Regions from separate parts of the Homo sapiens genome. Here all the other regions are linked to region 3. Evidence: fine-mapped expression QTL. A gene starts in region 3. Each other region holds a variant in brackets. All regions are shown on one strand. Distances are between the middles of the regions. Region 1 overlaps LOC124900547 (a long non-coding RNA gene). Region 2 overlaps SELENOT (selenoprotein T). Region 3 holds the start of SERP1 (stress associated endoplasmic reticulum protein 1).

The links. PIP is the estimated chance that this variant, and not a neighbour inherited with it, causes the effect.
Region 1: its variant is the best candidate, but not a certain one, in a credible set for the expression of SERP1 in whole blood (INTERVAL, PIP 0.59).
Region 2: its variant is the best candidate, but not a certain one, in a credible set for the expression of SERP1 in fetal neocortex (Walker 2019, PIP 0.59).

The regions. Positions count from the first base shown.
Region 1 is chr3:150,584,154-150,595,814 of GRCh38, reverse strand. All of the region lies in intron 1 of LOC124900547 (a long non-coding RNA gene), which reads left to right. EIF2A (eukaryotic translation initiation factor 2A) reads right to left here. Exons shown (of 14, transcript NM_032025.5): 14 at 9,799-11,661. Among named protein-coding and RNA genes, the nearest start is that of SELENOT, 13 kb to the left of the region's middle. The variant T/C (reference allele first, on the strand shown) is at 5,427.
Region 2 is chr3:150,603,584-150,612,849 of GRCh38, reverse strand. The region is part of intron 1 of SELENOT (selenoprotein T); the gene reads right to left. It also overlaps the pseudogene SAP30P1. Among named protein-coding and RNA genes, the nearest start is that of SELENOT, 4.9 kb to the right of the region's middle. RefSeq lists enhancers at 9,071-9,266, 8,645-9,266. The variant G/A (reference allele first, on the strand shown) is at 2,641.
Region 3 is chr3:150,540,917-150,552,577 of GRCh38, reverse strand. SERP1 (stress associated endoplasmic reticulum protein 1) reads left to right here and starts at 6,082. Exons shown (of 3, transcript NM_014445.4): 1 at 6,082-6,526; 2 at 6,800-6,875; 3 at 8,080-10,580. The coding sequence starts at 6,443. The coding sequence ends at 8,120. EIF2A (eukaryotic translation initiation factor 2A) reads right to left here and starts at 5,791. Exons shown (of 14, transcript NM_032025.5): 1 at 5,748-5,791; 2 at 153-222. The coding sequence starts at 5,775. RefSeq lists enhancers at 5,484-6,023, 5,296-6,495, 5,941-6,571.

The sequences.
Region 1 (11,661 bases), 43 kb before region 3:
CCACTTCTAAATCTAACCTAGAGAAATAATAATGTATAGCTCAAGATTTTAATTACAAAAATATTCATCACAATGTTATTTTATAAATTTATAAATCAGAAACAATTTCAGTGTCCAACACTGCATTAAATAAATCATGGTATATTAATTTAGTGGCATTTTAACAACCATTAAAAATGACTTATAAATTTTTATATGTGTATAAGTTACATGCAGAATACCAGCCTGGCCAATATGGTGAAACCCTGTCTCTACTGAAAATACAAAAAATTAGCTGGGCGTGGTGGCAGGCACCTGTAGTCCCAGCTACTCGGGAGGCTGAGGCAGGAGAATCCCTTGAACCTGGGAGGCAGAGGTTGCAGTGAGCTGAGATTGCACCACTGCACTCCAGCCTGGATGATAGAGTGAGACTCTGTTTCAGAAAAAAAGAATAATATACAAGGAACCAAAAAGTGGTTGATTCCTGAGAGGAGAACAGGGAACAGAGTGACTAGGGAACAAAGATGGGAGAGAAGTTATTCTTATTGCATAAGTAACTTTTGTATTTTAAAGTTGTGTGCTGTTGTCTTGTAATACTTATTCAAAAAGTAAATATATGTTTTAGAATTCAATGAAAAATAAAGTGCTCAACATAGAATGTTAAAATTGGATTACGAAACAGTAAAGTGTTATCACATTATTATTTATGTATTTTTTAAAGTACATAAATAGGAAGATATGGATCAAAATGTTTTGCTTGGCTATATTTCCTGTTAAACATATGTTATTTTGGTAATAAGAAAAAAAGATAGCTGAGCATGGCGGCACGCACCTGTGGTCCCAGCTACTCGGGAGGCTGAGGTGGGAGGATTGCTTGAGCCCAGGTGGTTGAGGCCACAGTGAGCCATGACTGTACCACTGCACTCAAGCCTGGGTGACAGAGCAAGACCCCATCTTTAAAAAAAGTACCAAATAGGCCAGGAGCGGTAGCTCATGCCTGTAATCCCAGCGCTTTGGGATACCGAGGAGGGGAGGATCACTTGAGTCTAGGAGTTCAAGACCAGCTTGGGCAACATGATGAAACCCTGTCTCTACAAAAAATACAAAAAGTATTCAGTCATGGTGGTGCACACCTGTAATCCTAGCTACTGAGGAGGTTGAGGCAGGAGGATCATTTGAGTCAGGGAGTTCGAAGCTGCAGTGAGCCATGATCACACCACTGCACTCCAGCCTGGGTGACAGCGCAAGACCCTGTCTCAAAAACAACAACAACAACAACAACAAAACCCACGAATTTTAAAAAATAATAAATAAAAATTTACAAAGAAAAAATAGAGAAGTAGAAAACGAAAATCTCCTCAGTTCTTAGCAGCTACCAATCCAGAGCCAGCAGTCTTGGTGTGATTGGCCACTACCTCTTCCTCTTCTAGGGAACAGGGGGATGTCCAGAAACAAACTAAAGAACTTCTTATAGGTCAGAGGGAGGTGGAGTTTCAGTAGCTTCTATGCAGGGTTGGCTTTATGGGTATGTGACCTATGCAGTCACACAGGACCCTGTAGTTGGTTTAATGCTCTGTTGTCACAGCTTTGAAATTCTTAATAATTTTGAATAAAGAACTTCACATTTTCATTTTGCATTGGGCGCTGCAAATTATGAAGCCGGTCCTACTTCTATGTCCAAGGCTGATCGCTTCTCTACCACTGTTAGTATTACCAAACTGTCCATTTGAAATTCCATGAAAAAGTTTTTCACTGCCAGTGTTTAAAATCCAAATGTCTGCTTGAACTTTGTGATCTAAATGTATTATTTCAATCAATAAACTATAAGCTAGGCATGGTGGCTCACACCTGTAATCCCAGCACTTTGGGAGCCAGAGAAGGGAGGATCACTTGAGCCAAGGAGTTTAAGAGCAGCCTGGGCAACATGATGAGACCCTGTGTCTACAGACAACAACAACAACAACACAAAGTTATTTTTTGAGACAGTCTTGCCCGTTGCCCAGGGCGGAGTGCAGTGGCACGATCTCAGCTCACTGCAACCTCTGCTTCCTAGGTTGAAGTGATTTTCCTGCCTCAGCCTCCCAAATAGCTGGGATTACAGATCCGCACCACCATGCCTAGCTATTTTTTTTGTGTTTTGTAGGAGAGAGAGAGTTTCGTCATGTTGGCCAAGCTGGTCTCCAACTGCTGGCCTCAAGTGATCCACCTCCCCTGGCCTCACAAAATGCTGGGATTACAGGCATGAACCACCACACCTGGTGTACAATTTTTTTTTTTTGTTAATTTAGCCAGGCATGGTGGCATGTACTTGTAGTCCAGCTACTCAGGACGCTGAGGTGGGAGAATCGCTTGAACTCAGGAGGTTGAGGCTGTAGTGAGCCATGATCATGTCACTGTACTCTAGCCTAGATGACAAACTAAGACCCTGTTTCAAAAAAAAAAGTATGAGTGTATTGTCTCAGATATGACTAGGGGAGTGAGAGAAGCGCCACAAGCTAGGGACTTCAGTTTCCCTAAATGGGGACTAGATGTCCCTGCTGGGAAGAGGGAAGAAGATGCAAAAACAAAACAGAGTAGGCACAAAGATTCTCTCCAGTGAAATCACAATTCTAGGATTTGCTCTTTAGCTTCAATGAACATAGTCAAACAAAACTGTGCCTGGAAGTAATTTTGCCCAATAGTGTAAAGGCAAAAACCTCTGCTTTGCCAGGCCTGAGACTCTAAAAAAATACAGCTGACTTTACTTTAAAAAGGAATTTAAGTCCTAGAAGGTTTGTGGATGTATTCCCAATCGTATAGTGCCTGATTTGCAACTACTTCTGGGGTAAATCCCTGGGTTATCCATTCCTGGTTACCAGTTCCTCTCAGTTCCAAGAGTACTCATTCCCAGCTCTCCCATTAAATCCTCAGACAAGAAACTGAGGTGGTGTCCTGGGTGATGGCTCCCACTTAATTGCAGTATCTCTCCCTCACTGCCCCCTTTCCTTCTCTCTTTCTTTGTCCCTCTTATGTATATCTCTTTCTCCATAATGCCTTTCTCTCTTTCTCTCCTCATTTCCAATTTTTGCTTAATGATCTTAGAAAAATATGTTTTCTTTCCCTTCCGTCATTTTGTTTGTAAATGCTGGATTACCTCAATGATGGTTAAGCTCGAGAATGGTGAAATTTATACCAGGGAAAAGAGAAGATAAGCTTATATGTTTGTCCTAAAGAATCAGTATCTAAAGCACAAAAAGCATCCTTGGGAATCTCCTACAAATTATTTTCCCATACTTTTTCCTTCATTTTAATGTTTCTTCTAAAATAAAAAAGTATTCAAACTTTCAACAAGAATTTTCATTCTATTTTCTTATTTCTTATTGTGGCATTAATTTTTAAATATTAAATAATTTTTTAAAGACAATTTTTTGGGAGTTGTAGGTTCACAGCAAAACTGAGCAGAAAGTACACATTTCACACATACCCCCTGCATGCATAGCCTCCCTTACTATCAATATCCCCCACCAGAATGTGTCATTTGTTATAAAGGATGAACCGGCCTTGACACATCATAATCGAAGTCCATAGGTTACATTAGGGTTCACTCTTGGTGTTGTATAGTCTGTGGATTTGGAAACATGTTTAATGACATGTATCCATCATTACAGCATCATACAGAATATTTTCCCTGTCCTAAATATTTACCCTCCCCACTAATACCTGGCAGCTACTGATCTTTTCATTGTCTCCATAGTTTTGTCTTTTTGAGAATATTATGTAGTTGAAATCATACAGTATGAAGCCTTTTCAGATTGGCTTCTTTCAGTTAGTAATATGTATTTAAGTTTCTTCTGTCTTTTCATGGCTTGTTAGCGCATTTCTTTTTAGTCCTAAATATATTCCATTGTCTGGATGTATCTCAGTTTATTCACTCATTGAAGGACATCTTGGTTGCTTCCAAGTTTTGGCAATTATAAATACGTTTGCTATCGATGTATGCAGGTTTTTGTGTAGACTTAAGTTTTCCACTCCGTTAGGTAAATACCAAGGAGTGACATGCTGTATTGTATGTTAAAAGTATAGTAATAAACTATACTTAGTTTAGTAAGAAACTGCCAAACTGTCTTCCAAAGTGGCTGTACCATTTTGCATTCCCACCAGCAATAAATTAGAGTTCCTGCTGCTCCCCATCCTCATTAGCATTTGATGTTGTCAGTGTTTTTGGTTTTGGTCATTCTAATAGGTGTAAAGAGGTATTTGACTATCGTTTTAATTTGCATTTCTCTGATGATGTATGATGTGGAGCATCTTTTCATGTGGTTATTTTCCATCTGTATATCATCTTTGATGAGATGTCTGTTAAGGTCTTTGGCCCATTTTTAATCAAACTTTTATATATTAAACAACTTTTATATATTTTTAAATGAATTTTCAACTTTAATATACAAAGTTGTTTGCTTACTGTGGAGTTTTAAGATTTCTTTGTATATTTTGGATAATACCTCTTTATCAGATACATCTTTTGCAAATATTTTCTGTGGCTTCTCATTCTCTTGAAAATTTAAGTGATTTTCAACTTTTTTTTTTTTTTAATGAGCCTATACCCAGTTTTTGCATTTAAGGTTTTCACCAATGCTCACCTCAACACCAATGACAATTTATAATATTCTTTCAATGGGAAAACATAGTCCTCTCTGCAAATGGTTGACTTCTAAACAAACTGTTGGAATATGATTCATTTGCACCAATAAGAGACCACTATTACAGAACAAGTTTAGCAGGAGGGTGGGAATAAGTCTGATGGCAAAAGTCTAAAGAGGGTTAAGTTTGACAATGAGAAAAGACAGACTAGACAGCAGAGTAAGACCCTGTCTCCAAATAAATAAATAAATAGCAGTAATCCAGGCTACTAAAATGGCAAGTTTTAAGTGAGTGAACATATTTTCCAGTTATGTTCTAAAATTTTGAATTCCTCATTAATTTCCCCATACTCCAGATCCTTAGAACCCTCTAGTGTCCGTATGAGGAATTGGTTTAGGTGAACCAAGTAAAATGCTTTTAATTTTTACATTCATGTTTTTAATATATATATATATATATATATATATATATACACACACACATATACATACACATATATATACACATATATATACATATACATATATATACACACATATACGTGTGTATATATATATGCTGGATGTAGTGACTCATGCCTGTACTCCTAGCACTTCAGGAGGCTGAGATCGGTGGATTGCTTGAGCCCAGGAGTTTGACACCAGCTTGGGCAACATGGCGAAATCCTGTCTCTACAAAAAATACAAAAATTAGCTGGGCATGGTGGTGCATGCCTGTAGTCCCAGCTACTGGGGAGGCTGAGGTGGGGGATCACTTGAGCAGTGAGCCGTGATCATGTCACTGCACTCCAGCCTAGGCAACAAGGCAAGACCCAGTCTCAAAATGTA[T/C]ACATATATTATCAAATACAAAAAACCTTTAGAAGTGTGCTTGTCTGACTTCCAATTTAAGACAACAGACTAAGCACATGCATCTGCCTCCCCCTTCTTAGGATCTGAGTGACATGACAGGAAAGTGGTACAAGCAATAATTTTGTGGCAACACTGAAAAGAAAGAAGGACCAGTGGTCCAGAAACTGCAATACCTCCAGGAAAGAAGGACCAGTGGTTCAGAAACTGTATTAAAAACTCTAGAAAACAGAAAGTAGATGGATTCATACTAATTGGTTTACCTATAATTTCCACAATATACCCGCGGTGAAATGAAGTTTGGAGATGTGAAGTACTCGAGAGATTCCAAGAACAAAACAGAGCATTACAGAGGGAGGGAGTGGCCTATGAAGCAGCAGCTCAAGAACAGCCGTGTGTCACTTAACAGGGATAGGTTCTGAGAAATGTGTCACTAGGCGATTTCCTCACTGTGTGAACATACAGTGTACTTACATAAACTTAGATGGTATAGCCTATTGCTCCTAAGCAATACAATATGTTACTGTATTGATACTGTAAGCAGTGGTAAATATTTGTCTATCTAAACATATGTAAACGTAGAAAAGGTACAGTAAAAATATGGCATAAAAGATAAAAAATGGTACACCCATATAGGGTACTTAACTTGAATGGAGTTTGTGGGACTGGAAGTTGCTCTGGGCAAGTCAGTGAGTGAGTGGTCAGTGAACATGAAGGCCAGGGGCATTAGTGTACACTACTATGGACTTTATAAACACTGTACACTTAGGCTATGCTAAAAATATTTTTCTTGTTTTAATAATCAATTAACCTTAGCTTACTGTAACTTTTTAAATTTATAAACTTTTAATTTTATATAACTTTTTGACTCACAATATCACTTAGCTTAAAACATACGTTGGCCAGAACAAGCCTATAATCCCAACATTTTGGGGGGCTGAGGTGGGATGATCCCTTGAGCCCAGGAGTTCAAGACCAGCCTGAGCAACATAGTGAGACCTCGTCTCTACAAAAAGTAAAAAAATTAGCTGAGTGCGGTGGTGCATGCCTGTAGTCCCAGGTACTTGGGAGCCTGAGTTGGGAGGATCCCTTGAGCTTGGGAGGCAGAGGTTGCAGTGAGCCAAGATTGTGCCACTGCCCTCCAGTCTGGGTGACAGAATGAGACCCTGTTTCAAAACAAAAACCAAAAAACACATTCACACACATTATACAGCTGTACGAAAATATTTTTTCTTTATATCCTTGCTCTAAAAGCTTTCCTCTAATTTTTTTTTTTTTAACTTTTAAAGACACAAACCCATACATTAGCCCCAGCCATGTAGGGGCTATTGATCAGGATCATCAATATCACTGTCTTCACTTCCACATCTTGTCTCACTGGAAGGTGTTCAGGGGCAATAACACACATGGAGCTGTCATATCCTACAGTAACAGTGCCTTCTGGAACTCCTCCTGAAGGGCATGCCTGAGGCTGTTTTACAGTTAACTTTCTAAAGTAGGGGTACACTCTAAAATAACAAGTATAGTATAGTAAATACATAAACCAGGAACAGTCATTTATAATTATCCAGTATTATGTACTGTACATAATTGTAAGTGCTAGACTTTTATAGGACTGGCAGCACAGGTTTGTTTACAAACAGCATCACTACAAACAAGTGAGTAATATGTTGTGCTAGGGCATTACAAGGCTATCATGCCACTGGGAGATAGGAATTTTTCGGCTCCATTATAAGCTTATGGGACCACTATCATATTTGCAGTTTGTCAGTGACAAAAACGTCTTTATGTGGCACATAACTGTAGCTGATTAGATCACTGGCTATCACACTTCAGGGCAAAGACTTTCTTCCCCCAGGTGCAGAGAACAAATGGTTGAAGCATTTCCTCTGGTTGCAGTCCTGCAAACTGCTTTCCAAAGACAGTACTGAGCCTCAGATGATGTAGACCTCCTCAAAGTCCTGAAGAGTAGAAAAATGCTCCTCCCCTACAGAATAATTTTTTTTGGAAATTGTGAGGCCCCTGTCATCCTACAACGACACTAACAGGACACTTGTCAGTCACAAGACCAACTGTGAGCAGGCAATCAGCCCTGCATTCCGGGCAAGGCTTTGGTGTAAGCAGCTCTTCACAACTGCCGCCGTGTCCACGCCTGCCACTTAACCTCATCGACTCTACAGGGCTAAGCTGTCCCTGAAGAGGTGTAATGTTATGGCTGGGCCTATGACTTACCACTGATCTGACGCAGGGGTTACAGACAGTCAGCAGGTCTATGACTATTAATGGATTGTATCTTTCCATAGAGAGCTGAAAAGCCAAGGATAAAATGCTCACCTTATAATTTACTTTTGGAAAACTCAACATCTTACCTTTTCACCTTTTTGGATTGCAACATAAACATCACAGAATTTCTGATATTAAATTTATTTTGGAATGTATGTGTATTATTTTTTACTTGGCAAGGGGTATAAATTCAGAAAATGTTCAATTTAGTTTTTTAAAAACTGGTTTAACAGTTTGTCTGAAGCAGATTAGTGGCCCATGATCTTCATTAATCTTTTGAGCAATAAATGTTTAAATTGTTCAATCTGTGTCAAAACCAATCTGGCCCATTGCTTTATTTCTTTTTTTAAACAAAGTTTAAGGCCAGGAGCAGTGGCTCATGCCTGTAATCCCAAAGCTTGGGAGGCCGAGGCAGGCGGATCACTTGAGGCCAGAAGTTGGAGACCAGCCTGGCCAACATGGTGAAATCCCGTCTCTACTACTAAAAATACAAAAATTAGCCAGGCGTGGTGGTGCATGCCCGTAATCTCAGCTACTCGGAGGCTGAGGCGCGAGAATTGCTTGAGCCCAGGAGGCAGAGGTTGCAGTGAGCTGAGATCGAGCCACTGCACTCCAGCCTGGGTAACAGAGCAAGACTCTGTCCCAAATTTAGATGTTAAAATGCCAATTGCGGAGTCACATCTGATTCACTTAACTTGATTATGCTTCCACTAAATAAAAACAACAGTCTCAGAGTAATAACAGTACCAAATGTGAAAATAAATTGAGTAAAAAAACCCCAAACATAGTGAAGGAGAAAATCAGCAAGTAAAATAAAGATGATGATGATAATAGTAACAACAAAAAGTATTTACATTTTGTTGTTGTTTTGGAGGCAGGGTCTTTCTCTGTCACCCAGGCTGGAGTGTAGTGGCATGATCATGGCTCTCTGCAGCCTCAATCTTCTGGGCTCAAGTGATCCTCCAGCCTCAGTCTTATAAAGTGCTGGGATTACAGGCATGAGCCTAAATTAGTGCCTGGCCTAAATTTTCTAATGTGACATGACTCAAGAATTCCACTTCTAGGAGTTTATATAGTGGAGAATACAAGAAGCAACATAATTATGTGGTTATTTCCATGTTATTTTGTATTCTTCTACAGAATACAAAGGAATTAGCAATATTTTTCTGTAAAATGCCAGAGAGTATATGTTTTAGGCATTGCAAAAACATGACCTGTTGGAAATACTCAACTCTGCAGTTGCAGCATGAAAGCAGCCATGGAAAATAAGTTAACGAGTGAGCATGGATGTGTTCAAAGAAAACTTTACTTATGGACAATAGATTTCACAGTTTTATACCATTTTCACATGTCATCAAATAATCTTTTGATTTTCCAACCATTTAAAAATGTAGGCTGGCTGCAGTGGCTCATGACTGTAATCCCAGCATCTTGGGAGGACGAGGTGGGCAGATTGTTTGAGCTGAGGAGTTTGAGACCAGTCTGGGCAACGTGGCAAAACGCCACTGTTTAAATGAGGGGAAGTCCAAATGTTAGATTCTGGACTTGGCTCTTCCTCTACTTAGCTGCCAACCATGATAAACACGTTAAACCTTAAAAAAAAAAAGCAAACCATTTTTCTATTTAGAGCATGTTAAATCTTACTTTTTCCCATAAAGTCTTCCTTGATTCATTAGTTGTCCTTTACTTTTTTTTTTTTTTTTTTTTTTTCTTGAGACGGAGTCTCGCTCTGTTGCCCAGGCTGGAGTGCAGTGGCACGATCTCGGCTCACTGCAAGCTCCGCCTCCCGGGTTCAGGCCATTCTCCTGCCTCAGCCTCCCGAGTAGCTGGGACTACAGGCACCCGCCACCACGCCCGGCTAATTTTTTGTATTTTTAGTAGAGACGGGGTTTCACTGTGTTAGCCAGGATGGTCTCGATCTCCTGACCTTGTGATCCGCCCGCCTCTGCCTCCCAAAGTGCTGGGATTATAGGCGTGAGCCACCACACCCGGCCTGTCCTTTTAAACAAACTGAAATTTATACAATCTATATTGGTCTGCTCAGGCTGCCGTAACAAAATACCAGACTAGGTGGTTTAAACAAAGAAGTTTATTTTCTCACAGTTCTGGAGGTTAGAAGTCTGAGATGAGGATATCACCAGCATGGTTAGGTTCTGGTGAGGACTCTCTGGCTTACAGCTGGCTGCTTTCTCACCATGTCTTCACATGGCCCAAAGAGACAGAACAAGCTCTCTGGTGTCTTTTCTTGTAAGGACAATAATCCCATCACGAAGTCCCCAACCTCTTCACCTCATTCAAACACACTTACCTTCCAAAAGGCCCATCTCCCAATACCACCACGTTGGAGGTTAGGGCTTCAACATACGAGTTTTAAGGTGGCACAGTCAGTCTATTAACTTCCTGTCCATATATTAGTTATGTATTAGGCATTATGTATTACCTAATACATAGCTAATCTGTATTAGTCAGGGTTTTCCAGAGAAACAAACACATACACACATCCTGAGAGAGATAAGAGAGAGAGACTCATATAGAAGGAGCTCCAAAATATTTTTTTTTGTGTGTGTGTGAGACGGTTTCACTCTTGTTGCCCAGGCTTGGAGTGCAATGGCACGATGTCGGCTCACTGCAACCTCTGTCTGCCGGGTTCAAACAATTTTCCTACCTCAGCCTCCCAAGTAGCTGGGATTACAGGTATGTGCTACCACGCCTGGATACTTTTGTATTTTTAGTAGAGATGGGGTTTCACCATGTTGATCAGGCTGGTCTTGAACTCCTGACCTCAGGTGATCCACCCACCTTGGCCTCCCAAGGTGCTGGGATTACAGGTGTGAGCCAGCATGCCTGGCCTCCAGAATATTTTAAGGGAGTACAGAACCACTATGGTGAGTATAAGCTGGGCATAGTGATGCAAGCCTGTAGTGTCAGATACTTGGAAGGAGGAGGTGAAGGATCACTTGAGTCCAGGAGTTCAAGGTGCACTCCAACCTGGGAGGCAGAGTGAGACCCTGTCAAACAAACACCACCACCAAAAAGCCCCAAACAGAACAGTTAGTATATGCCATCTTTTTTTTTTAAGTGTATGTGTATGTATATTTGAATACTCATATGGTATCTATCATTAGAAAGATACACAAAAAACTGGAAAATGTGGTAGTGGAACAGACTTAATTTTCATTGCATGCCTTTGTATTTTTTGAATTAGAAAAAAAAAAGTCCTGTGTGTATACTTTTTCTTTAAAAATTTTTAAAAAAGGATTTTGTTACTACATAGGATACTCTTACAAATTAAGAAGAAAGTCAAACATCCAAACAGAAAAATGGGCAAAGGAAAAGAAAAATCAATTCACTAAAGAAATACAACCAACTATCAAACGTGGAAAAGTACATAACCCATCTCTGATAAAAATACATGTATATAACAGTAACAAACAATCATTTCCTCTTTATCAAAGTGGCGAACATTTCAAAGCCTTATCACTTCTGATATTGCCAACAGTGTGGAAAACTTTAAATGGTGCAAGTATAAAGCTTGAGATAGGGCAATTTGGCAGTATCCATGAAAACTAAGCAGGGTGCTTAGTGTTACTAAATGATACATTACTTGAGGATACAGGAGTAGTATATATCATAGTGACCTAAAGCATAGGCTCTGGGATTAGATGGCCATTTCCTAGCTTTGAGACACTGACAAATTTCTTAAATTTATGGCCTTAGTTTTTTCATTTATAAAATAGAGATTAAAAGAATTACTTCATAGAGTCTTGTGAGAATTAAGTAGTTTTACACATCTTATAAATTAATAAAGGATATCTGAACTAAGGAACTTATAATAAAAACAGTGATTAAATTTAAAATGTCTTTGTTCATTTACATGGTATATATCACCCTCTACAAAAAAAAATGACACTTGTCTTTCAATCTGTCAAGCTTA
Region 2 (9,266 bases), 61 kb before region 3:
ATATGTCTAATTAAAAGAATAAAAGCTAAAACAAAATGAACTTTGGAAGTTAGTGCAGAATATAACAAAAGTGGCTTTTTAACTATGGGCAAAATAAGAAGATGGATAAAATAGGCTTACCAGCAGTTTCAACTCTTATTTCTGTTCTGACTCACCAACAGGGGAAACATTAAGATTTATCAGATACTTATGTCCTTGAACAAACTAGCTAGCTAGCTATATTCTTATTAAACCCTCAAGACAATCCTGTGAAGTTCTATCATGCCCACTTTATAATTGAGCAAATAGACTCAGATAGGTTAACTTGTTTTAGTCATATAACTAATAGGTGGCAGATCCAGAATATGAACGAAATTATGTGATACCACCCAAATTACATGACACCAAAATCTAATTATCCTCAAAGGATATGTCTTAACATTAGAAAGAATGACCAACATTAAAAATATATATATATAGCCGGGCATGGTGGCTCACACCTGTAATCCCAGCACTTTGGGAGGCCGAGGAGGGCCAATCACTTAGGGTCAGGAGTTTGAGACCAGCCTGATAAACATGCCGAAACCCTGTCTCTACTAAAAATACAAAAATTAGCTGGGTGCGGTGGCGGGCGCCTGTAATCCCAGCTACTCAGGAGACTGAGGCAGGAGAATAGCTTGAGCCGGGAGGCGGAGGTTACGGTGAGCCAAGATTGCGCCACCGCACTCCAGCCTGGGCGACAGAGCGAGATTCTGTCTCAAAAAAAAAAAAAGCTGAAGACCCCATGTAACAGTGAGCTGGGTCTCCATTCCAGGAGACGCTCGACTCTGAGTCCCGGCCCTCGGCACTGTCCACTGTTTCGGCGCCAGCAGCAGCAGGCCCAGTTGGTGTTCTGCCATGCAGCTAACTTGGTGTGCAGAGTGAACTGCCGCCGACGGAGCGGCCAGGAGAGTGGGGATTTCTGTCAGCGCCGGTACCCCGGAGCTCGGAGACATGAACGGCTTCACGCCTGGGCAGTGGGGAGGCGGCAGCCGCAGTGGCCGCTGTGGTCGCCAGTGCCTCGTCCGGGAAATCGGGGCTGAGGGGCCGGGCGCAGGGGCGGTCTCAGCGGCTGGGCCCCTGGGGGCGGCCAGGCCGGGCTCCTGGCAACTGTGCTGCCTGCGGAGGATGGTGAGCGGTGCGGTCGGGCAGCAGGCAACGCCAGCTTCAGCAAGAGGATCCAGAAGAGCATATCCCAGAAGGTGAAGATCGAGCTGGATAAGAGCGCAGGCATCTTTACATATGTGATTATCATAAAAACTTAATTCAGAGTATTCGAAACAGAAGAAAGAGAAAAGGGAGTGATGATGATGGAGGTGATTCACCTGTTCAAGATTTCGATACCCCAGAGGTTGATTTATACCAATTACAAGTAAATACACTTAGGAGATACAAAAGACACTTAAAGCCACCAACCAGACCAGGACTTAATAAAGCACAACTTGTTGAGATAGTTGGTTGCCACTTTAGGTCTATTCCAGTGAGTGAAAAAGACACCTTAACATATTTCATCTAATCAGTGAAGAATGACAAGAACAAATCAGATCTCAAGGTTGATAGTGGTGTTCACTAGATGTGGAATTGAGACTAAAAACTTGGATGTTAACACTGTTTACCGCTTTTTCACATGTAGAAATGTTCTTTGTGTATTTTTTCTGCAAAAGATTTTCTGATTTTATTTTCTTTGTTTCTGACTCTAATAATTAGTTGGAAACTCATGTAAAATGAGCTTTCCTAAATTAAAAACTATTTTAAATAAAGGTTATTACTATTAAAAAAGAAAACAAAAACAAATACACACACACACACACACACACACACACACACGACTCATGATGCAATAGTACTGTGGCAAGACCATTAAATACAGAGTCAGGAAATCAGCTCTCTCACTGACCAACAAGACAATGGTCAAGTCCATTAACCTGCTTTTGTCACAGTATCCACACCTGTACAATGAGTAGGATGACACCTGCAATACACAGGTAGTTCTCAGAGTACTCAAGAGATAAGGCATGTAAAAGTGACACATGTATGTAGGTAGGTTATCACCATTATTAGAAAAATGTTAACAGCATTTGGATACTTTAAATGTTAGTAAAACATTTTTTAGTCTCTTTTCCTGAAAGAGTTCACAATCTAATTTCAGAGAGACAAATACACAGCAAACCCTGGGGAACAATTATAAGGTAATGCAGAAGCAAGCCCAGAAAGCAGTGCACAAATTACAAACACAAATTAAAGAGCAAGGAGAGAAAGAACAATAATTTCACTGGTGTATCTTTCTATCACACTTCTCTTAGGTCATCAATTATGTATATTCTATCCTTTCCTTCTCTCTACCAGCAAAATTGAAAATAATGAAACATGAACCCAGTCTAATAGACTGATTGAAATGTTAAGACTGTTTTTGGTTACTAAGATGCAAACTTGAAGAAAAACCAAACACAGTGCCATCCTGAATTTGAAGTGCTGAGATAACCAAATCAAATCAACCATAAGTAGTTCTGCTTAATGACACAACTACTTATCAAATGAACACCTTTGTCAAAATGAAAAGAAAAGGGTACCTTTATACCTAATGAAAAGACTGTCTTGCTTGTGGTACAAATGCTAGGTTTC[G/A]TAATGCCAAACTATAACAAAATTAGTTAAGCTACCTTCAAAAGTAAGCACTGTAATGTGACAATAGAGACCAATCATAAGTAAAACAGTTGGGTTTCATTTTCATTCACATAACTACTAGGAATCTTTGATATCATTCACTCTGTTCCTCATTTTTTTCTACCAGCCAAAATTACCTTTTAAAACATTAAACTAATGAAATTCTCTAATGTAATGTAATTTTGGTACATAGCCCCTATCAAATTCTTACTCAAATTCTGAAATCACAAAAATTCACAAAAATAAATCATACCAAACACTGACACTTTAACCAACAACCTAATGACAAAATCTAGGAGAAAATTATATTAATTATAAGGTAGACAGAAAGGTCAAGATTAAGAAAAATTACCTAAACTCTGCTTCAGGAAAATTCCTATCTGAAAGCTCACAGATCTAAGGCTCATCCCAAAGGGAGAACCAAATAGCTGGTCAACTTCAGTGAAGTAAGATACTATCCATGCTCCCATTCCCAACTTTCTATATCCTGACAGAGGATGTGTTAAAAAGAAAGAAAACACCAAGGCTGGGCAAGGGGGCTCCTGCCTGTAATCTCGACACTTTGGAAGGCTGAGGCAGGACTGCTTGAGCCCAGGAGTTCAAGACCAGCTTTGCCAACATGGTGAAACCTCCTCTCTACAAAAAAATACAAAAATTGGCCAGGCATGTAGTGCGCGCCTGTAATCTCAGCTACTTGGGAGGCTGAGGTGGGAGAATGACTTGAGCCTCGGCAGTCGAGGCTACAATGAGCAATGACTGCACCACTGCACTCCAGCCTGGGTGACAGAGTGAGACCCAGTCTCAAAAAAAGAAAAAGAAAACATCAACAGAATAAGTAGCAAGGGTGTGTCAGTTTCAGGGCAGCAGGAAAAGGACTAGCAGTAGCACAGAGAATTCTGGAAGTTTATAGTCCCACCTGTAGAGGCACGGAGGCCAGGCCGAAAAGTTACTGATGGCGCAGTGTATTCAAAACTTAAGTTTTACCCTCAACAACTTAAACAAAGGAACATACCTCAAAATAGTAAGAGCCATCTCTGACAAACCCATAACCAATATCATACTGAATGGGCAAAAGTTGAAAGCATTCCCCCTAAGAACTGGAACAAAACAAGGATGTCTACTCTCACCACTCCTATTCAACATAATACTAGAAGTCCTAGGCAGAACAATCAGGCGAGAGAAAGAAACTGTACTAATCAAAATTTAGGGGTTATCTTGGTATTTCTAAATAATATATTCAACTCAATTGTCCAGCACTTGCCTTAATGGCAAACTGTTAGGAAATTATGTTTCAATTTTTTGTAAAAGGTTATAAAACCTTTAAGATCATTCAGTCATGTTTACCTATATCTAAAAGCTTTGAACTAAGTACTTAATTCATTATTAAGTGGAAACAACTATTATGTGCAAGGAGTTCAATTACATGCTGCAGCTATTTTTTTAATGGTAACACTCTACTACTACTAACCTGCTATCTACACCAACTTCTTACTACTCCTTTATTTCATTGATACCAATAAGCATACTTTTCCATATTTAGCATCTCTACTTTTCCTTTTTTTAAAATTAGAGACAAAGTCTCGCTATGTTGCCCAGGCTGGTCTTGAACTCCTGGCCGCAAGCAATCCTCCCACCTCAGCCTCCTGAGTAGCTGGAATTTACAGGTGTAAGCCACTAAACGTGGCTACATGTAGCATCTCTATAAATTAAAAAAACAATAACAAACAAAAAAAGCCACAGGATTTATCTTATAATCATTAGTGTGTCCGTTTAAATGGCAGTATTTTTTTCTTCTAAATGGCATATAAAATCATGGTACATCTTACAATCCATTATGTATTTTAGGTTTGATGTAATAAAGTAACTGTTAATTTAAGTTTCTTAGTTTCAGTTATCATGGCTATTTTGGAGATAAAAATTTCTTTGTGGGGGTTTTCCCCTGGCTACTATGTCCTTAGTCTTCAAAAATCAGGATTCCTTCCCTCCCACCAAAAACATTCATAATACTTGTTTATTTTAATTATCATTCCAGTGAATGGTATAGCATCACCACAGAACTCAGGAATCATCTTTGACATCTCTCACTTCATGCCACCTCTCTTTCCCCACAAACATACAATTCATCATTAAGAGCTGTTAAATTTACCACATAAAGATCTCTCAAATACATCTCTTTCTATTTCTACCACCTCCTTACTTTTCCAAGTTCCATTATCTCTTGCCTGGACAACTCCAAAAGCCGCCCTAAATGGTTTCCCATCAATTCTTTGTCTCCTGGAATGTCTTTTCCACAAGAAAACCAAACGGTCTTTGTTAAGCATGGCCTGCCAGACCCTCAAGCTCTTAACGGCACCTTCTTTTAGGTCTCTGAGGTCAGTAGGCTTAGGCTTCTCTGGTAAAACTGTGGTCTTTCCTACTATAAGTACACTGAACATGTTATTCCCATTGCCTGGAAAGTTCTCGCCAAATAAATCTTATCCTTCGAATCTCAGTTCAAAGTTCATTTCCTCATGGAAACCTTCCCTGATCCCGACTAGGCATCTCTCATACCACCACATAATCTTTCTTCACAGCACTTAACACCAATTGAATTTTATCTGTGTGGTCAGTCCATGGATTAATGTCTGCATCTGCTCTTGCCTGTGAAGTCCACGAGAGCACTGAATTGAATTCTCCGCAGGAAGCAAAGTGCCTGCACAGAGTAAGTGCTCCAATATCTGTTGAATATGCAAATATCAAGTCTACAGTAACCAACATGATCTCTGTAACTCACAATTTCTCCAATTCAGCATTTTACTACTAATCTTGATGAGTATCAACATCCAAATCAACCTTAGGTCTTTATTTTCTTGCTGTCACACTATGAAAGCCAAGGCTGAATAGTTGTAAATTTAAATAAAAATCTGTTTTGGTACAGTTGTTTCATTTACCTCTTAAAACTACATTTAGAAGTTGGCTGTCCTAAAATTACAGCAGTAGATTCTCAAACTAACAAAACTTTGAAAATCCCGCCATATTCTACTTATGTTTTGAAATCTCAATTTCATTTAATCTACTATTCTCAGCAATTCAGTTGTCAAATGTTCAAGTAAATATTAACTGTAAAGGGTTGTAGCCAATAATCTCTTTAAACTGCAACTAATTAAATGCTGTAGATCTGATTACATGTTAAATCGCATATACGGAGAAAGTATGTATGACAAACATCATGCCTAAGAGTAACTATCAATACAAATTTATAAAAATCAATAAAAGGAAAACACAAAAAGGGAATTTCAGCCGGGGGCAGTGGCTCAAACCTGTAATCCTAGCACTTTGGGACGCCAAGGTGGGTAGGTCACTTTGAGGTCAGGAGTTCAAAATCAGCCTGGCCAACATGGTGAAACCCCGTCTCTACTAAAAATACAAAAATTAGCCAGGCGTGGTGGTGCACACCTGCAGTCCCAGCTACTCAGGAGGCTGAGGCATGAGAATCTCTTGAGCCCAGGAGGCAGAGGTTGCAGTGAGCTGAGATCACACCACTGCACTCTAGCTTGGGCAACAAAGCAACACTGTCTCAAAAACAATGGAATTTTAAGCTCTGATTAGAGAACTTCCTTTTTCTATGTTAAGTGTTAAACGTCCAAATAAGCAGAATAAATTTTTTTCCAAGTATGAAGCCAATATAATCAAAAGTATCTAATTATATTGCTCAATCAACATAATAAACCACAGACTCAGATACACAAGTAATACTGTGCCAGTCTGGTAGACTTCTTGAGATGGTCACATCTTTAGCATGCTTAATTCCTGGCATACAGCAGGTATTACACACAGCCTGGGCAACAAGGCAAGACCAGGTCTCTACAAAAAATATGAAAATTAGCCAGGCGTGGTGGTGCGCGTCTGCAGTCCCAGCTACTTGGGAGGCTGTGGTGGGAGGATTATCGGAACTCAGGAAGTCAAGGCTCCGTGATCATGCCATTGCACTCCAAACTGGGTGACACAGCGGGACTCTGTCTCAGCAAAAAAAAAAAAAAAGGAAGAAAGAAAGGAAAAAAAAAAACGAGAATAGGAAACTCTGTCGTAAGCTACTCTACAAGCTTGATCTCTCAGCACTATGTTGCTATTGTGTTGACTAACAATTGCAAAAGTGGTACAATTACCAGGTGATATATTGAGGTATAGTTATTTTTGATAAAATACTCATGATCACTATAAGGGGAAAAAGTCAGTGGAAATGAAGGTAAAATAGTTCTCTTTTGATTGTTAGCAGTGGTAATTAATGAAAAGCTGCATTTTATAATACTGACTTCAAATGGAATTTTAAAATTCTCATGTTTATCCTCAAACGTATTAGCTTCCTGTCCTTTCTCAAACAAACTTGCAAATTAATGTCCACAAGATTCTAGCAAAACCAGAAACCCAATATTCACTTTACCATAAACAGATTAATCTCTGGGGGGAAAAGCAACAAACAACAAGCTAAGTTGATCTGTATTTGGTGGGTCTTATTAATAACGTTATTTCCCATCTACAGATTAAACAAAAAATGATCTCCGGTGGATAGTGTCAGAAAAATAAAAATAAAAATAATTTTTTAAATGGAAGCATTTTTGTTATATAACATGCTCAGAGTGACTGTAAAAGAAAATTATTAGACTTTTGGGACAGGTCTGTACTTAAAAACAAAGAAAAACAAAGTATCAAAAGTTTAACTGAAGTACTTACTACTTTTTTTTTAAGTTTAATTTGAAGGACTGAATGCCCTTCCCTACGTTTGTTTACACATTTTGAAAACCTTGCTATGAATAGCCTTGGTGGAAGATACACCTGGTAAATTATTGTGACAAGTGTTCCAAAAAAAGCAAACGTAAAAGGGGTATTTTGGAAAAGCAAAAATACAACCAAGAGATAAAAGTAGGATACAGAAAAATTAAATAATTTGAAAACTGCAATTTTTTAACACTTAAATCCGTAAGTATCACAACCCTTAACAATCTTTAGGTTAGTAAGATGATTACCACCTTCTAATTTAAAAATTAAGGAAAAAAGTTAATGGATAAACCATTCTCCCATTTGCAGTATTACATGAAAGATGATATATTCCAGAAACATAGTACATTGTACAGGGAGGTTTTTTTTTTTTTTTTTGAGACGGAGTTTCGCTCTTGTTGCCCAGGCTGGAGTGCAATGGCGCGTTCTCGGCTCACCGCAACCTCCGCTTCCCGGGTTCAAGCGATTCTCCTGCCTCAGCCTCCCAAGTAGTTGGGATTACAGGCATGCGCCACCACGCCAGGCTAATTTTTGTATTTTTAGTAGAGATGGGGGTTTCTCCATGTTGGTCAGGCTGGTCTCGAACTCCCGACCTCAGGTGATCCGCTAGCCTCGGCCTCCAAAGTGCTGGGATTACAGGCGTGAGCCAGCGAGCCCGGCCTTGTTTGTTTTTAATCAGGAGAAATTGCAATGTTTTAGTTTTCACTCAAAAAAATAAAGTCTCACCATCTTATTTTCTAACTCAAACATCACCTTAAGCCGATTTTTAAAAATTATTTTAAAGGTTTGCTTGGTCTTCAGTGAGTAAGTAAAAAGCTAGTTGGAGAAGTAGAAAATCAAAACTTTAATATACTAATACATGAAGTTCTTAAAAGAAGGTTTTAAATGAATGATGTCCAACACCAACATTCCAATGTATCCGGACTCTGATGATTTACTAATCTGGCTATTCTGGGATGGTCGGTTTATCCTGAGAAAATGTCATCTTTGGAGGTGTAAGATTCTCATTTCTATAATTTTACAATTTTGGTGTTTTTTCCCCCATCTTCAGAGCCTTTCAATCCCCACCCGCAACCCCACTTACCGTATAAAATGCATCATTGCCCTGCTTCTAACGATTAGGTTAAAAACAAAATCATTTAAAGAACACTGTCGAAAACTGCCGAGATCTGCTGGATACACAAGACAACTGAAAGGTAGAAAGAGATGCCAGAGCAGGCAACTCCTGGGAGGCAGGTGAGGAGGGAATGCGAGCGAACTGTCAATGTTTAGAAGAACAACGTGCTCCTTTTCTGACACTTTGGAAATGGCAAACAGAACCAGCATCCCCAGACCTTCCTTCCACCCCCTCCAGCTGTCAGACGCCCCATTCGCAAACTCAACAGTCCCCCCAGCAAGTTCAGGAGAAAAACGGCGTCTGTCACTCCCGGATCCTCTCCAATGACCCGAATTAACCTTCATCTAGCCAGGCAGCGAAGCCGCCCGGCATTACCCCGGAAAAGAGGGCAGAAAAAGTGAACTGACAAACGGTTGGCGCTCCTCCGCCGACGCGGCGCCTACTCATCCCCATCTCCGCAGGCAGCCGGGGTGGCTATGGCGTGACGCCGCCAACCAGTCCTCCGTACTAACAGGTGTCCCCCAGTCTTCGCCTTTCAGCGTTTAACCTTCTCGCGCCCTCCTTCCCCATTCCCACTGTTCTAGGAGGCAAAAAACAAGTGAGCAGTTATACCTGGAAAAGGAGGGCGGCCTGACCGCGCTAAGGGGCCGCGAGAAGGCTGGCTGTGGAAGGGCGCCGGCACAGTTCTACGAGGCCAGCGAAGATGCGGCCATTT
Region 3 (11,661 bases):
AATATGTATTCTTTTCATCTTCGGTAAATATTATACAATAAAAATGAGTTCATCTGTTCTTTTCCTTTCTTGTTCAAAATACACCACCAACAAAACCATTTTAGATTGTACTGTATGTTCCCTATAACATTACTTAACAAAATAAATCATACCTTGGAAACACTGTGCTTTCTGTAAAATGTGGTGGTCCATTCACCATGTACAGTCCTTCTGATCCTCGGACTAAAGAAGTAAAATAAAAAGAACCACAATTACTTTGTTAATAAAGACTCAGTTAACACAAATGTGTTTTTTAAAAAAGCAGCTTTAGTCAAAATATTAATGAAATCATTAAATATTTCATTGAACTATAGAATATTAGCAACAAAAGGGCATATTTTCTTACTCTGTTACATAAAATCATATAATTGCTGAGAAATACGTAACTTTTTAAATAAAACTCGAAACTTTGTCACCACTGAAAGAAAGGCAGCTGTCTTGTGGTAAAGAGGACATGAATTCAGAGCCTGACCTAAGTTTATAACTGCCTGTGGAACCTTGGATACGTTACCACCTCTGAATCTGTGACCTAATCTGTAAAATGGAAATATCAGAACACAGGATAGCTGTATGCTTTATATAAAGTAATAAAAAAAGTATATGTTTAAAGTTTTTAGAAATATAAGGCAATATTAATATATTCACAATTTATCAAACTAAGAGAACAAGTGGAATGAGACATATTCATTTATTAAGGCCCCAATGACAGTAATAGCCTAAAAAATTAAGTGGAAACAAAGTTCAAGATTAAATAATCATCTACAGAACTAGACTATACTTCTTATTTCTATGTTTAAATTTATTTATTTTTTTGAGACAGGGTCTTGCTGTCACCCAGGCTGGAGTACAGTGGCATGATCAAGGCTCACTGCAACTTCAAACTCCTGGACTTAAGTGATGCTCCTGGCTCAGTTTCCCAAGTAGCTGGGACTACAGGCATGTGCCACCCTGCTTGGCTATTTTTTTTTTTTGTAGAGACAGAGTCTCACTGTTGCCCAGGCTGATCTCTAACTCCTGGGCTAAGGCAATCCTCCCTCCTCAGCCTCACAAAGTGCTGAGATTACAGGTGTGAGCCACCGCACCTAGCCTAGACTATACTTTTTTAAATGGTTGAATTAAATGCTTCTAAAGCTGAACCAAATAAATAGATTCATTTAGTCAACAAATGCTTAGTGGGAAAAAAACGAACAAACTACCTCCTAGGCCCTGTGTTGAACATTGGCGAAATAATAGGAAAGAAAATCAGCCTTGTCTCTGACCTCATTGAACTTTGCAAACAGTAATCAAATAATTGGCCAAATATACGGAATCATATACCTGTGTTTAGTCCTTCAAAGGAAAGGTATATGGTACCACTGAGGGTATAAAAGAGAGTTTTAACCTAAAAATGGAAGGTTAGGGAAAGCATCCTTAAGTGTTTTGTATACTGAGATGTAAAGGATCAATGGCAGTTAACAAGCAAGGAGAACAGTTAACAAGTGCAAAAACCCCATGGAAAGAAAAACGACAGAGCGTCAAGGGGATGGAAAGAAGGCCTGTGTGGCTAGAGGATGATGAAGCTGGAAAACAAAATAGGGCTCAGGCTAGGCGTGGTGGCTCACACCTGTAATCCCAGTACTTTGGGAGGCCGAGGCAGGCAGATGGCTTGAGCCCAGGAATTCAAGACCAGCCTGGGCAACATAGGGAGATGCTGTCTCTACAAAAATTAGCTGGGCACGGTGGCACATGCCTGTAGTCCCAGCTATTCGCACGGCTGAGGCAGGAGGATCACCTGGACTTGGGAAGTCAAGGCCACAGTGAACCATGATCATGTCACCCACCACCAAGCCATGTTAAGTTTTATATTTCTTGTAGAGACGAGGTTTCACTACATTGCCTAGGCTGGTCTTAAACTCCTCAGCTCAAGCAATCCAATCTGCTTCCCTCAGCCTTCCAAAGTGCTGGGATTACAGCTGTAAGCCACCTGGCCCAAACTGACATTTTGTACTTCTAAGATGCCTTGCTAGATTTAATTAGTTTTTCTATTAAATAAATTTAATAAAAGCATATACAGTTTAATTTACTCCTGATAAGCTGTGATACAAAGTTTATTAGAAAAAAACACAAAATCAGGTCCATAACAGAACATAAACTGTTTTAAACTAATAAAAGCAAAAATAAATAGGGACTAAAAAACTTCTCAATACTGAAACAATTTTTTTCTACATGTAACTTTCTAACAAGGAATCCTTTTTAGTTACAAGTATCTGTGAAACTAAATACAATGCGTAGTTAGCTTAATATAGTGTATTCTGAGTTTGTGTGATTCCCTGTTTTTAGTGATTTCCCTCTTCAATCAAATGGGATTGGCAATATGTTCTAGCAGAAAGAAAAATCTAGAATGCAAGCAGTTCTTTTAAGACAACAAATAAACGCCAGTTTCACACAGTAGCTGTGTGAAATACATTAAACATCTACATAATCTTTTCCAAGCTTACTAGCCTTTTTAGACATTCATATACTATTTATTGCTCTAGGCCTGAGTTAGAGAGAGAAAAACACAGGGCTTCAATAAACAAGGATCCCATGGCAGGGGTGTAGTCATCTTTAAAATACGATACTTTTCCCAACTCTTACATTCACTGAACTATGTATTAGTTTAGGAAAATCACTCAATTTTGAATAAATTATCTCTGTGACTTCAACTGGTCAAGCAGATTAGACAATGTGAATTTCACGTAATGGACATTGCTGTTTTATGTGCCTAGCAACCAGCTCCTCTTCTTTAGGAGGCGCTCATTTTCTTTTGAGGAGTATCGAGGAGTGGGAAGATAATTTAGTCCTGACTACATGATTAAAAGTTGACTGATACAAAGGTGAGCCAAGCAAAGTCAAAGGCAGCTAGCCTTGAGATTTTTGCTGAGACTACTGGCAAAAATGTGTTCTTTCCTTTGGAGCTGGGCATTTGGTTGAATGTCAGTTTAAAGATGAATTTAATCTGGAGGAAAGCAAGAACCTACAGATGAAGAAAAACAGATTTCTGGCCAGGCATGGTGGCTCACACCTGTAATCCCAGCACTTTGGGAGGCAGAGGCGTGTGGCTCACCCGAGGACAGGCGTTCAAGACCAACCTGACCAACTTGGTGAAACCCCAACTCTACTAAAAATACAAAATTAGCTGGGCGTGGTGGTGCACGCCTGTAATCCCAGCTACTCAGGAGGCTGAGGCAGAAGAATTGCTTGCACTTGGGAGGTGGAGGTTGCAGCGAGCCAAGATCGCGCCATTGCACTCCAGCCTGGGCAACAAGAGCGAAACTATCTCAAAAAAAAAAAAAAAGAAAGAAAGAAAGAAAGAAAAACAGATTTCTGAAGCCATGTGAGTATCTGGATCTAGCAGTACTGAGGCTTTTAGGTTATACGAGTTTAAAAAAAAAAATCCCTTTTTCACCTGCTTTGGCTTGTCACTCCCAATTAAGAGTTGGGGTTAACAAAATTTACTGGCTAATCTGCAAATTATTCACAGCTCTAAAATCCCACGAGTCTAAATTTAACAAAAGATTTTGGAAGTAAAATAATCTATTGTTGAATGAAATATGTACACTGAGAATGTTTAAAAGATTAAACAGTTTGTTCTAGTGAAAGAAAAATGGACCACAGAGTTGAACAATCTGAATAAGTATAATCCTAATCCTGCCAATTTGCAGTGTGAATCGGACCACTTAATCTCTCTGGGCCTCTAAGAATATGAGAATATGAAGAGTAGACTGAACAGACAACATTTAAGCTCTTACAAAGTCCCTGATTTTAAGCACTGTAAGACAATTGTCATCCTTGGTTAATTTACTATAAAGTGGCTATCCTTCATTAATTTAAAAGGATAGTCTAAACAGACAAATCTAATCTAGATCTCTTGTATGCACAGTTCAAAATAGGGTTTGCGCTCTTATGAGGCTCTAATGCCCCCACTGATCTGACAGGAGGGGAAGCTCAAGTGGTAATGCTTGCCCAGTACCAGTCCGGCCCAGGGGGTTGGGGACCCCTGATTTAGAGTATCTATTGTCTACCAGGCACTGCACTAGTACTGAGAAGACAGATATGAATAAGACCCTGTCGCTGACATTGAAGGACTCACAGTCTAGCAGGGGAGAAAGGCAAGTGAATGTCTAATTATCCTACTTAGTAAGTGAAATAAAATTTCAAATATATTTCAGGTACAAAAATAGCCCAGGAAGTGACTGACTCTATCTGGGTAGAGTGACGAAAGGCTTCACAGAGCAATGATATCTAAAATGAATTTTAATTTCAACAGATGAAAAAGAGTTTGCCAAATCAACAAGAGGCATAGGATAGTACTAGACTGAAGAAACAGGTTGTTCAAAGGGACTCAGAAGCAGTTCAGTATTGATGGAGCACCAAATAAGATGGGATGGCAAGGAAATAAATGAGTCTCAAGAGCAATTCAAAGATTATAAATGGTTACATAACTATGCTACATAGGATGGAATCTACCCTGTAAGCAGAGAGGAACTACCTACTGTAGGCATTTTTAAAGGAGGGGTTATTTATCAGATTTTAGAATGTAATTTTTTCATTAGAGTTCAAATAAGCATTTAGTATTAAAAATTGTGAATAACAAGCTACCTTTACAAACCTAAAAAAAAATTTATTATGTAACTTTGCCTTTTAAACAGTCTTTGCCTGGTATATTATCTAGAAGATTATACTCGGCGTTTGATAAATGATGACTAAACTGCAGAAGACAGACTGAGCATCAGTGGGCATGGCGCTTAATAACAAAGATTTTAAAATGTAAAAATAGAAATGTAGACTGGCAAAAAGTGCAAAAATGTTTTAAGGTTCCTTTCGCGGGGGGGAAGGGAGGGAATAGCCTCCCTCCTTAAATGCAGACAACCTTTCTCTTAATGACTTTTTCCTTCTATATAGTTATCAGAACTTAACCAAAACCTTCTTTTCCTTCCCGACTCTCTTTTCCTTACGTAATACTCATATGCAGACTCTTAGCCACACCCTAGTAAAGCAACTTCCCCAGCATTTTCCAATCTAAGTTTATTATCTCCTCCAACACTACAGTCTTTAGCTTCAAAATTTCAAGAGTCCTCTAATGTTCTATTTCTAATATGCTCATAACCATTTCAAAATCAAATGTTGCTAGAATATCTCTATCATGCTCACTGCTACACCCTCTCCCAACCACACCTTCATCATTTGAAACCTGCATTACAGCTCCACTCTCCCTATTCAGTCCTACAAACCTCATTAAGGCAGGAAGGCCAGAATCTGGAATTACTTAAGTCCAGGTGTATTTAAAGTGCGTGATCATTCTAGAGGACTAACTCATGTTTGTCTTTGTTCTTATTGTAGACCTAAATGACTTCACAAGGGCCCGTGTAACACCAGTATTGCAGACCCATGTGTCACAAATTCAACTAGCACATTGTTTTTCTCCCCCTTCTTCTATTTCTGTAGAAGATGAATCCGCAGGCAAGAATGATGGATGGGTGAAAGGGAGGGGGAATACGAAAGCCCAGAGGCGGAGACTTCACTTCCGATTGCCACGCTATATCAAGAAAGCCAACAGTCTGGCCTTTCCGCAAGCCACAAGAAAAGGCAGATCAGACTCCCCGGCTCCTCGGGTAGTTCTCAAAGGCAAAGACAAAAATAAGAAACTAGTCTGAAGAAAGAGAGTCCCTCGCTTCTTCAGAACTCACCTGTCAAGAGCGGCGTGGACGGCGCCATGTTGTCCCGGAAAGAGAAACCGCTCGGGTGAGAGTTCACCAGGGCCGAACCCGGCCCCTACACGTCTCCTCATGCGTGGAGACAGCGAATTGGTGTTTCCGGAGCCATCAGCCTCGGGGCCAATTCACTTCCGGTTACGGAGTGACGCGGAAAAGGCGCCCAAACGCGCACGCGCAAATCTAGGGCGACGCTTGACAGAGCTTGGGAGGGTGCGCCTGCTTTCGCCCTCCTTCTCCAGCGGGAGGGGCGCGCACTTCCGCGGGGCGGAGTCCGTCTAGTGCTGACGTTGGCAGCCGAACCCAAAGTAGATCGAGGCGGCGGGCTGCACATTCCCGTTGTTGCGTTGCGTTTCCTTCCTCTTTCACTCCGCGCTCACGGCGGCGGCCAAAGCGGCGGCGACGGCGGCGCGAGAACGACCCGGCGGCCAGTTCTCTTCCTCCTGCGCACCTGCCCCGCTCGGTCAGTCAGTCGGCGGCCGGCGCCCGGCTTGTGCTCAGACCTCGCGCTTGCGGCGCCCAGGCCCAGCGGCCGTAGCTAGCGTCTGGCCTGAGAACCTCGGCGCTCCGGCGGCGCGGGCACCACGAGCCGAGCCTCGCAGCGGCTCCAGAGGAGGCAGGCGAGTGAGCGAGTCCGAGGGGTGGCCGGGGCAGGTGGTGGCGCCGCGAAGATGGTCGCCAAGCAAAGGATCCGTATGGCCAACGAGAAGCACAGCAAGAACATCACCCAGCGCGGCAACGTCGCCAAGACCTCGGTAAGGAAAGAGCGGGCGCCCCTCTGCGTTCCGCAGCCGGAGCTGAGTCCGGGTCCCTGGGGCCGCGTCGCGTTTTCTCCCGGATCCGGCCGACCGTGGGCTGGTGCCGTGGAGGGGTAGGGGCCCGAGTCTGCGAACCGCCAGACTGTGGGGGCTCGGGAACGGAAGGGGAGACCTGTGAGGTGAGGGGGCCGGCGACCGGCGTGCAGGCGTGGGAGCCTGGGGTCCGAGTGGTTTCTCTGCATCTGAAATGGTGGATTTTCGCTTTTGCAGAGAAATGCCCCCGAAGAGAAGGCGTCTGTAGGACCCTGGTTATTGGCTCTCTTCATTTTTGTTGTCTGTGGTTCTGGTAAGTGGCTTGGGGGCTCCCATCAGGTAGAGTCTTGGGTTGAAAGGATTTGGGATGACGTGGTGACCGGTCAGTAGTGAGTCCTACCTGCGTAGTTCTCAACCCACCTGCCGAGGACTCCACATAATTCTGTTTCGTCTGAACCAAATTACTTGTTCCACATATGCACAGAGGGTGGTGCTCCAGAAACTTCTCCCAGCTTAATTTGTACTCACAGGAGATCAAAAAGGAGGTCAGGTCTTGGTAATGATCCAGTTGGAATAAATGTTAAGACCGGACAAAACCTAACGAAATGAGAATTTAGAATGTTTTGTAACTCCATTATCAGTCTTTGCAAAGAAAATTATAAATATGTACTATAGATGTTAGAACTTGATTTAACATATACCAGAATCTAATGTCTTAATGTCAAAATTGAGTATATTTTATAAAATAAAGCTTGTGCAAAGAATTGATTCACTATAGAGGAAATTACCTGATTGGCATTTTAATGTGTGAGTCAAATGTTTTTAGGTTAATAAAAGAAACGTTTGATACATGGTTTAAAAAAAAAGTGTCGGGGTAGCCTGCTGTCCCCTAAGAGTAACAGACACTTGCCTTTGCAAATAGATTACAAAAAAAAGGTCTTTCCTCTCTTCATTTATCATTTTAATATGCAAGCTGTTAATATTGAAGTAGATGTTTGTTTTCCACATTCTAAAATTACTGAGATTTCTGTTTAACGTTTCACTTTGCCTTTCTTCTTCACTTACCAATTGGAAGCTTTCCTGATAAATGGATGAGAGCCAAGCAGTTTATATAACCTGAAGATGATTGAATTTCAGCTTTGTGAGAATGAGGAAACATGCATGTGTTACAGGCCAGGCCTTAAAAGGATGCTTATAAACCAAAATAATTCTATGCTGGAAAAACCTGTTGGCTTTGGTGCTTTAAGTTCTTTGTAAAATGATTACTTATCTGCAAGTTCTCTTGGATACTTAGACATAAAGTTCAGCGAAGCTAAGATAAAAAAATAACTCAGGGATATTTCATTGTTTTATTTATTCAGACAGGCCTGTCTTCACTTCTTATTATACTGAAGTTATGTACCATTTGCAAATGTAAGAGTACCTTTGGATTCTTCAGCTACCTTAATAAATATTTGTTAGACACCAGACCTATTTTATTCAAAGCTTATTTTAATATTTGCTCTTTCTTTTTACAGCAATTTTCCAGATTATTCAAAGTATCAGGATGGGCATGTGAAGTGACTGACCTTAAGATGTTTCCATTCTCCTGTGAATTTTAACTTGAACTCATTCCTGATGTTTGATACCCTGGTTGAAAACAATTCAGTAAAGCATCCTGCCTCAGAATGACTTTCCTATCATGCTTCATGTGTCATTCCAAGGTTTCTTCATGAGTCATTCCAAGTTTTCTAGTCCATACCACAGTGCCTTGCAAAAAACACCACATGAATAAAGCAATAAAATTTGATTGTTAAGATACAGTAGTGGACCCTACTTATTCAGTCAATTAAGAGTAAGTTTTTTTATGTGGTTATTAAAACAGTATGAACAATTAGTCTAACTCTGCATAGACAGGGTCTAGATTTTGTTAACCCAAATGTATAACTGCAGTTAGCTTAAATTACAATTTGAAGTCTTGTGGTTTTTATATAGCTAGGCACTTTATTACTCTTTTGAACTGAAAGCACACTCCCTTATAGGTTCATGTAACTGTCCTGTAATAAGGTGCTTATAAATGGAACAACTACACAGCCTAGTTTTGCCACAACCTTTAGCATCTAAAAAGTTTTAAAAGCTTCTAAATGTCTAATATAAAGGGAGATGCTTATAGCCACAACATCTATTTTACCAATATTGTTTCCATTACACTACCTTGGATTTTGCATGAGTGAGTATAGTAACCCAAGATGCCATAAAAAAAAAACTTGATCGTTTTCTGACTTAATCAGTTACTGTGGTTTCACTAAAAGCTACCGTGGTGGAGTGAAGTCAGTCAGGGAAGGTTTGTTTATGTTACATTTATTTCACCAGAACTATTTTAATATATCAAAGGGGTTTACTATGCCAAACAAAATTCTAGGGAAAAATACTGCTAAAAATGGATGCCTCATCAGAACATGCTGTTGAGTCCAATGTGCCATAAGACATTTTAGCATGTTAAATAGCACTTTTAATAGCAAAAAAAGGCACATCAACTGCGAAGTTATCCTTAGTTTGCAAATGCTTTTTCTAGATTAATGATTTTTCAATCATTAGGGTACTAGACACATCAGCCTAAAGTGGCATCTGGAATTGAATGGATTTACTGATAATGATCAGTCTTTAGTCTTCCCTTTGTTATATGACTTTATAGGTTATGATTGATCAAATTTACGTTTTACTAATGGTAAGGGTGAGGGTCATAGGGCAGGTTTTGGGTTTTCTAGTACTGTTGAAAACTGCAAGTATTGGCTATTTGTATACTTAGCCATAACTTGGTGAAAAAAAACCTGAGCAGTGTCTATGTATTAATGCGTTGGAAAGAAAGCTGCTTGTGTTTGCTTTGTTAATTGCCTCAGGATATTTCTTTTAAAATAAGCTGTTTTAAGAGGAACAGAAGGGAAATCTGCTACCTAGTCTATACACAGCGTGAACCTCACAGGGGGCTTCTGATACCCTCAAACATGGAGAACAGTAAGGGAGCAGAGTGGTTAAGGACTTTCAGGAACTTAACTATTCTGGAATAAGGAATGAATCAACTGACCTTGGGCCAGCAGGTTTTTAACTAAATTGTTACTTGCCTTTCTCACCCAGTTAATCAGTCTCTGTACTTGTTTCCCTTTTTGAAACAAGTGTCTTGGTTAACTAATTCTGTTTTATGGTTGTGCTAAATTCATAGCAGGTGCCTTATTCTTTGCTTTTAGTCAAACCATTCCATATCAGAATTTTCCTTGGTTTACTATAGATATTTGGCTTTAAGTTGTTGTTTGTGTTTTTTAATGTACAATGTTCTGATAAATTTGACTGTTAAATTGCTATAGCTAGCAATCATTTTACATATGTAAAATTGCATTCCCTTTGTATTTCATGTGTAATTCACCAATTAAGTGCAGTTTATATTCAGGTTGGATTATGCATGTTTAGGTAAACGAAAGCTGTGTCTTACTTGATTTATTCTTTAAAAATAAAGTTCCCTGAATATTTGATGCTTTTCTTCTAAACGGAAATGATTTTACAGTTATCTGAGTGTACCTTTTATAGTTAGTAGAAAATGATTTTAAAGAATGTTTAGTATTGTACTTAAATGGTATGCAGAGGCACAGATGTAAGGTTTATAACTGGAAATAGGTGGTAAGAAAAATATATAGAAAGCACAATGATTTGAATATTTTTCCACTTAGGATTTCCTAATCTCCTTGTCATCCAATTCAAGCTCAAGATGAAGCACAATTCTTTGATCTCCCTTTGCCAGTTGAATTTTATAGATCATCTAATGTTGAGCACAGTATGAGAATAAATATTGGGGTTGTCAACATTACTCAGTTACTCTTTGTGGTTTAACTCTAACATTTCAACAAGTTGTCAATTAATTGTATCTGTTGGGTTGTATATAATGTTGCTCAAAATAATTAAGTGGACTTCCAAAAATAAGATTTCCATTGTAACAGGATGCATTGTGATGGGCTTTGACTTACATTAAAGAAATGTGGATAGTCAACTGCAGGGCCATGACTCTTCTCACTGAGGTTACTGGAGTTCTGTTGGTACAAAGGACAACCATGGAGAGCTGGATTATGTTCCTGGGCTTAGTAGGTTCACCAGCAAAACTTTATTATGCTTCATTTGTGAAACTTAGAGCATCAGATTCTCCATTTAGAAATTGTTCTTAAGTTTGATTTGCCTTTACTTGCCTTTGTAGTTTTTAAATTTATTTTTTAGATGCAAACCGTAACTTCAAGAGGTAGGAGTTGATTGGCTTCAACAGCAAACTCTATGGCACTCCCTCAGAGAAGCATTTCCTGTCTAAACTTACTTAGTACCACAGTAGCTACTTGTACTACTTTATTTTCAAATTGAATTAGGACACATGTCCTTATTTAGAAAGAGGATTAATGAGCAATAAAAGGCTAGAAATTAAGGGAAAAATTAACTGCCTAGGCTTAGGTAATTCAAAGTAAATATATATCACAGAAACAAAGAAGGGACATGGAAAATTTAATCCAACTGCTTCAATTCGCAGATTAACAAAAACATGCATTTTAGTCAGTGAACAACTTATATGCCAGGTATGGAACTGTGAATACATAGTCCTGACACTGAAATATCTCAGACCAGTAGAGAAGGAACAGACAAAATGAAAGCATAACTACAATTGTAATAAGTATGTCAAAGGACAAGTAAAGCCAGATAAATTTTTTTTGTTGTTTTTTGTTTTTTTCAATCACAGAGCTAATTGGGGGAGAGCAGAAACGAACCAAAGTTTCTTGTACTTTATGGTAATAGGAATGATTGCAAAACTTACACTTAGAACACTTCTGTTTTCACGAGCTCTTTGCTTCTGCTTTTACAGAAATTCTTTAATTTTTTTTTAATTGCCAATTCGAAGGAAAAAGGAATCTGTCCTTTTATGGGTGCATTTAAAAAAAACTAGTGACAAATTTACTAGTGGTGCTCCCTGTACAGCACAAAAATGCAAGGGCTAGTAATGTTACCACTGTGATACATTTAAGGTTACATTTTTAAAAATTATTTTGCTAGAGTTTTTAATAATTTTTCATCTGGGCCAGGCGCGGTGCCTC